Linked DNA regions of Homo sapiens. The protein of the gene in region 1 purifies or fractionates together with the protein of each later gene. This does not show direct contact. Each region holds a gene or a part of one and is shown in the gene's direction. Other genes may lie near its edges. The genes, in order: ECE1 and SLC18A2.

The links.
Region 2: the proteins of ECE1 (region 1) and SLC18A2 purify together in Homo sapiens (co-immunoprecipitation; one large-scale study listed by IntAct). This does not show direct contact.

What each region holds. Positions count from the first base shown.
Region 1 is NC_000001.11:21,255,651-21,259,463, reverse strand, and holds part of ECE1 (endothelin-converting enzyme 1), read left to right. Parts: intron 1-624; coding exon 625-771; intron 772-1,873; coding exon 1,874-1,939; intron 1,940-3,325; coding exon 3,326-3,517; intron 3,518-3,813. UniProt on the Homo sapiens protein: Converts big endothelin-1 to endothelin-1.
Region 2 is NC_000010.11:117,250,997-117,254,809, forward strand, and holds part of SLC18A2 (synaptic vesicular amine transporter), read left to right. Parts: intron 1-2,402; coding exon 2,403-2,461; intron 2,462-3,051; coding exon 3,052-3,135; intron 3,136-3,408; coding exon 3,409-3,501; intron 3,502-3,813. UniProt on the Homo sapiens protein: Electrogenic antiporter that exchanges one cationic monoamine with two intravesicular protons across the membrane of secretory and synaptic vesicles.

The sequences.
Region 1 (3,813 bases):
CAAGACCCCATCTCCAAAAAATTTAAAAATTAGCCAGGTGTGGTGATACACACCTGTAGTCATAGCTACTTAGGAGGATGAGGTGAGACAATCACCTGAGCCCAGGAGGTGGAGGCTGCAGTGAGTTGTGATGGCCCCACTGCACTTCAGCCTGGGAATCAGAGCAAGACTCCATCTCAAAAAAAATTTTTTTAAAATCCCAACTTTGAGACTAAAGTAGACCGTAATTTACCAACCTTCTTAAACATGTGGAGCCTTTTTTATCCCAGAGGCACAATTGAATTTATGTTTTGATATAATCACATTCACACAATTCATTATCCAAAATATAAACCGTGAACCGGGAAAAGTCTCTTTCCCATTCTCATCCCAGCCACCCAGGGAGCGGCTGGATTCATGCCTGGCTGCTTGGCTTGTCTAGGATAAGCCTTTGCTCCATCCATGGGTCTCCAGCTCATGGGTCGGAAACCCCCGATGAAGACCAATCCTTTCCTTTGCTCTTGAGGCTCAGAGAGGTCAGGCGACTGCTCCAGGGTCACAGAGCAAGTCAGCGGCAGAACCAGAATTCACATCTGGGTCTCCCCGCCACCTCATCACCTCCCTGCCTGCTCTCCCTCCCCACAGCTCGGGGGCTGGAACATCACAGGTCCCTGGGCCAAGGACAACTTCCAGGACACCCTGCAGGTGGTCACCGCCCACTACCGCACCTCACCCTTCTTCTCTGTCTATGTCAGTGCCGATTCCAAGAACTCCAACAGCAACGTGATCCAGGTGAGCTAGCTTGAACCTGCAGCGGTCGAGGGGGCGGGCACGACCTCTTCCTGTTTTGAGTTTAGCAGGACCTGGGGTGGGAGAGGGGCTTGCCCTGGGTGGGACGGCGGTCTTCTAGTTTCTGAGCCTGGGTTATTTCCAGAGGCCCCACTGGTGAGATCTTTGCAGGCTGCTGGCCTTGCGTAGATGGGCACTGCATACAGGTGAAACTTTGGGTGCTGATGGGTTTCCGTGGGCCCCAAGAATGATGTCAACTCCTGGGCACAGCTGAACCCACATCCTGGTTTCCCCCTCCTTAGCGTCTGCTCTTTGTAACTCTTCTTGGAATGGGTTTGAATCCATCTCTCCCTGTCAGAGCATGCCCCAGACAGAGGCTCAGCCTGCCCAGGGGAGCTCCAGCACTGGTCTGCCCCAACCTCCAATGCAGAAGTGAGAAACCCAGGCTGGGGGTCCTAAAAGCTGAGTTCCCAGCCCATCTCTACCATTCAGTCACTGTGTGACCTTGGGCAAGTGCCTCAACCTCTCAGAGCTACAGTTACCTTATAAATCAAATGGATTGCAATAACACCTGTCCTAGGTATGCCAAGATGTGGCCATGGGTGCCAATAGTAGCAAGCAGAATTTGACCCTCCCCTCCTGCTTGGCAGGCACTTGACCAGCACTGTCTTCTTGAATCCCCATTCTAGCTCTGAAGGTTAGGTTTTATTTTCCCTATTTACCTGAGAAGAAACCTGAGAATCAGAAAGGTTCAGTAACTTGGCCAAGATCACACAGCTTTTGAGTGACTCTTAACCACCTGGAAAGCGTTGGGGAGATAGAGGCACTTTGCCGAGGCAAGTAGCTGTTTAAAAAGGAGGGTGGCTCTGTCCAGCCCTTCTGAGGAGCCCAGGAGCCCTGCGGGGGGGGGCCACGTGGACAGGCAGGAATGTGTCATCCCGTCCCTGAGTGGGCTTCTCAGTGACTGTAGCCAGCAGTCCTGCTTCTCCAAGGGCCTGAGCTGGGCCTCTGCTGCCATGTGCCAGCCATTCCCAGGGCAGGAGGCCGTGCAGTGGATACACGCATTGCAACACGAATTCCCTCTCATGCCTGCTTCTCTTGCCAGGTGGACCAGTCTGGCCTGGGCTTGCCCTCGAGAGACTATTACCTGAACAAAACTGAAAACGAGAAGGTAAGCGTGCCTCTCCCCTCCCAGCCTGCCTCCCAGCACGGTCCTTCCTGCTCCGTGTCCACACCCACACCTGTGCAGGTCTTTGAAGCTAGGGGAGCCCAGGGGTGTCAGTGACCTGATGGGTGAAACAGGCAGACCCTGGCAGGGGAGGGACACCCCTAGGCTGGCTGTGTCACTCAGGCATCATGGACACAAGGGGCAAGAGACAGGTATCATTTGTCCTGGTTCTAGAGAGAGGCAGAGGCAGCAATAACAGCTACCACAATTCGCCTGGCCCTTTATACATCACCTGTGACCCTCCCATTAACCCTGCAGATACTGAACTTCATTTGCCTCATCTGTCAAACAGGAATTAGTTTTGTCTTGCCTTTTACAGAAGAGGGTATCAGGCTCAGAGATGCTAAGTGATCTGCTCAAGGTCACATAGCCAGTAAATGACGAGCCTGAGATTCACATCCGGATCCACGTGCTCCGAAGCCCATGGCTCTCCCTCCCCCTGGCCTGCCTCTTGTGATGCCTCTTGGGGCGACCTCACCTGGAACTCATTCATCTGTCCTTTCATCCTTCCGCCGGCATGTACTTGACCAAGCGCCCACAGAGTGCCTGATGCTGGGGAGATGGTAGCAGACAAGACCACCATAGCCTTCGTCCCACAGGGCCTGTGGTTTGGTCGGCGAGGCGGATATTATTTAACTAAGAGAAAGTGAAGCTGAGAAAGTCTACCGTGGAGACCTAATTCAGATCTTGGAACACGGGTGGGGGGTGGTCAGAAAAGATGCATTCTAAGAATGGAAAGACAGCCCCAGGACAAGCCCTGGAAGACAGGGACCAGCCCAGGTGGGGACCTGTGAGACGAGCCAAGACTTTGGGCTTTCTCCTGGAGGCTGTAGGGAAGCAGCAGAGAGACACGGCCCCGAGATCATTCTCAATGCTGTGTCTCCCACGGGTGTCTTCTTCTTTTTTTTTTGAGACAAAGTCTCTCTCTGCCGCCCAGGCTAGAGTGCCATGGCGCACAATCTGGGCTCACTGCAACCTCCTCCTCCTGGGTTCAAGTGATTCTCCTGCCTCAGCCTCCTGAGTAGCTGGGATTATAGGCACCTCCCACTATGCTCAGCTAATTTTTGTATTTTTAGTAGAGACGGGGTTTCGCCATGTTGGCCAGGTTGGTCTCAAACTCCTGACCTTAGGTGATCCACCCACCTCAGCCTCCCAAAGTGCCAGGATTACAGGCGTGAGCCACCACACCTGGCCCCACGGGTGTCTTGGGGGCACTGTGCAGCCCCCTGGCTCCCTGTGCCGGACTTGGCTGGCCAAGCCCCCCACCAACTCTCGTCCAGTGGATAGTGGGGGGGCAGCCACTGACAGTTTGGGGTATGGGCCCTGCAGGTGCTGACCGGATATCTGAACTACATGGTCCAGCTGGGGAAGCTGCTGGGCGGCGGGGACGAGGAGGCCATCCGGCCCCAGATGCAGCAGATCTTGGACTTTGAGACGGCACTGGCCAACATCACCATCCCACAGGAGAAGCGCCGTGATGAGGAGCTCATCTACCACAAAGTGACGGCAGCCGAGCTGCAGGTAACTTGAGCGCCGGCTGCTAGGGAGGCTGGGATGGCCTCCAGGTTTCAGACAGGGCCCTGGACTGGGGGCTTTTATACTCATTTCATCTAGTCCTTGAAACTATGTGACAAAGGAAGGATGGTTGTTATGCCCAGTCCACAGATGGAAAAACTGATGCTCAGAAAGGTCAAGTTACCTGCTGAAGGGCACACAGCTAGTAAGTGACTCCAAAATAGGCGCCTGGCCGACACCAGGCTGCTTCTCTGTAATTAATAGTGTTTACTTGGAGGCTCGGGGTCATGACCACACCAGCT
Region 2 (3,813 bases), on another chromosome or scaffold:
GCCTACAGTCTGGGAAAGGGCCACAGATGTCTTATTTGCCTTCAGGGATGTCCCTGCAGCCTGAAGGGTTCCATATTAGAGCCTTATAAATAGCCAAAATGAAGAACTGGTGAAACAAGAGTGAAGCCCCTAATTCCAATAGCTTTGATACGTATTGGTACTTCAACAACTAGATTTTCCAAATATATATTGAACAGAGGGAGAAGCCTGTGTTTATTCCAGGACAGCCCGGAAGATTGTCATATGCCCGTTCTTTCATGGGACAAACTGTAGTTGCTGAAAATAAATTGCCTGTGAGTTCTCCTCTCTGAGCCTCCTGGACGTTTCCTGATTCAGTATCCTGCAGTGCCGTGTGAGCCCCCGGTGTTGGGTTTCTTTTGTCCACATGAATAAGGGGTACAGAGAATCAGCTCTGGGTGGGCTGAGACAGAAGAAGCTGTCACCCGATGGCCATCTGAACTGCAGGTCAGAATCCTGGCATCTTCTCTGGTTTACCCAATTTGCTTGGGGCCCCACTTTGTGAATTACAAGCTCATCTCTGTTCACAGCAGGGGAATCTTTGCATGGTTTGTGGGAGGGGACTGACTGTCTGGGAATCTGTCATGCTTGTGAGTTACTCTCTGTATTTTTGGTATTTGGTTTCTGGATACAGGTGAAGCAGTTAAAAAATATTTGAATATGGTCAAGAGAACTTTTGGAAAGATTCTATTTAAAGCTATATATGCCGTTTGGGTACTGGCGGAGGTGGTAAAATTTACAAGGAAAAGCCATGTGGGAATGGCCCAGGCGAAATTAGTCTGATGACATCTGATAAGTAATGACAGATATCATGCCTCAGTTTCCTCATCTGTAACATAGGGAGGTGAAATAGGGCCCTTATTAAATCATGACTAAATCTGGTGGGTGTAAATGCTTGGAGAACTGAGTGTAAACTTTAAATGAAGGCGCTATGATTATTTTTTATTTATTTATTTACTTTTGAGACAGAATCTCGCTCTGTCACCCAGGCTGGAGTGCAGTGGCATGATCTCAGCGCACTACATCCTCTGCCTTCTAGGTTTAAGCAATTCTCGTGCCTCAGCCTCCCAAGTAGTTGGGATTACAGGTGTGCACTACTATGCCTGACTCATTTTTTGTATTTTTTTTTTTTTTTTTTTTTTTTTTTTTAGTACAGACAGGGTTTTGCCATGTTGCCCAGGCTGGTCTTGAACTCCTGAGCTCAGGTGATCCGCCCACCTCGGCCTCCCAAAGTGCCAGGATTACAGGCATGAGCCATCATGCTCAGCCGATTACAATTTTTTATTAAAGCCTGGAATGGAAGAACCCTTCCAGGCTGTTGCCAGAGCTCAGGATGCTTGGCCCTTCTGCCTTCCTGGATTCATTTCATTCCTCTCCAGGTTCCTGAGGGTCCAGAGCTAGAGACAGAAGAGACTTAGAGATGTTTCAGGCTCTTCTGGGTTGGAGCAAACCTTCAATTGGGCAAGAGCTCAGCCACTGTTGGCTTCCTCTCAAGGCAGAGGGGCTGGGAAGCTGCCTGTACCCTCATGCCCCACCCACAGAGCAGGGACCCAGCTGTCTACTTAATCCAGCAGAAACAGAGGACAAAGAAGAAAGAGAATGAGGGAGGAGATGACATTTCTTAGGCACCTTCTATGCTCTAGGCACTGGTGTTAACAGTTTAACATCCATATCTCTTTCTGTACTCCAGTCCTGGGAGGTGGGCGGTGGTCTCTCCGAGGGACTGAGAGGAGACCTCCCTAGATTAAGTGGCAGGGTCATGTGTCCAGCCAGACATGGCATAGGGGAATGCCAGGGTCTTTCCACCAGCCCTGTTGACCTGGCGCCAGAGTCCTAGGTGAGCAGTGGTCTCACGGAGCAATTTGGATTTTGAAATTTTGCACAGAAAATGAGACTTTGTCTTTCTGGGTTGGCCTCATGGGGTCAACAGGAAGGCAGATCTTAACATCTTGCTTCCTAATGCCTCTTAGACATACTGCAGTCTGCCAGTGGAATCACTTGATGGCCTTTTACCCGAATCATTTGATTGCAGTGGCTCCTTTGGGAGAGCTTTAGCAAAGACTATAATTAAAGGAATCATTTTTTAAAAATGACAGAAATAGGGGCCGTGTATTTTGGATGTGTTCTGGGTTACTTGCCAATATTGTGTTAACATTTATTCCAAACAAATTTCTGTTCACAGTGGCAGTCCATAAATGTATTCACGTTCCAAGACAGTCAAACACAAAAAGGTCACATAGGAAGCACTGAGTATATGAATTTTCAGAAAAGTCCACCAAACACTTATCTGTCTGATCCCAAAGGGTAGCCAGGCGAAAATCAATATAAAGCCTTAAAAAAATAGCCTGCAGTCACCAGATTTGTCTGATGTTTGTGTTTTGCAGAATTGGCTATCCAATTCCCATATTTGCGGGATTCTGCATCATGTTTGTCTCAACAATTAGTAAGTGTGTGGTGTTTTCCTTCTGAGTGTGGGTCTCATCAGGGTGGGCATTGATGCCCATGAGCCGGGAATTAACAATACAACCTAAGGACGGCGGGGGGGCGGGGGGGGTCGTGGTTGGCTCATGCCTGTAATCCGAGCACTTTGGGAGGCTGAGGTGGGCGGATCATCTGAGGTCAGGAGTCCGAGACCAACCTGGCCAACATGGCAAAACCCCGTCTCTACTAAAAATACAAAAGGTAGCCAGGTGTGGTGGCATGCACCTATAGTCCCAGCTACTGGGGAGGCTGAGGCAGGAGAATCACTTGAACCTGGAAGACGGAGGTTGCAGTAAGCCGAGATTGCACCACTGCACTGCAGCCTGGGCGACAGAGCAAGACTCCATCTCAAAAAAAAGTATATGGCCTGGGAGGTTTGTGTATTGGCAACAATTGCAGAAAGGAATTGATAGCTTTTTACGGAACAAAAGCACAGGGTGGCTAACATGCAAATGCTCCACTGGGTTAAGGGGGGCTTCTGAAACGTTCCTGTTTGGGACGGTTGTGTCCCAGCAGCACTGATGTGCGGTCTTGGACCCCCTCTCTCGGCAGTGTTTGCCTTCTCCAGCAGCTATGCCTTCCTGCTGATTGCCAGGTCGCTGCAGGGCATCGGCTCGTCCTGCTCCTCTGTGGCTGGTAGGTGTGGAATGCCTGAGTGAGTTCGTGAGGGGCCCCTTGCAGAGTGAGCTGGACTCATTCAGGGAATTCAGGTATTGGTGGTGGTTGGGGTGCTGGGGATTCTTGGAGAAGGCACCCACTTTCCTCTTGGGTTCTGCTTGGTCTTACATTTTAGTGAATCTGACAGGTTTGGGAAGATCACAAGGCTGGCTGGAGAGGGAAGGCGAGTCACGCATTATTCTTTTGCTGTTCCCCGGAGCTGGCCTGTTGACTATTTCTTTCCCTGTGTAGGGATGGGCATGCTTGCCAGTGTCTACACAGATGATGAAGAGAGAGGCAACGTCATGGGAATCGCCTTGGGAGGCCTGGCCATGGGGGTCTTAGGTGGGTAAGGCCCCCGTGTAGGCAAACTGGCAAGAGGGGCCTGCCTGGTGCTGGACAGCGGCAGTCCTCGCCCAGTGACCCTGGCGCAGTTTGCACTGACACAGAGGTCCCCTTTTTATTTTTTTCCTTTCCTGCTTTCATGGAGACTTTGAAAAATGGTAGGAAGAGCCCTGAGCTGGGGGTGGAGGGGATCAGGACTTCCCCTGCCTCTGCCCCAAACCTCCCTGGGCCCAGATGGAAAACCAAAGGTTGAACAGGATGGTCTGCCAGACCCTTTCCTCGGGAACATTCAGTGAGTTGTGATCACGGAGA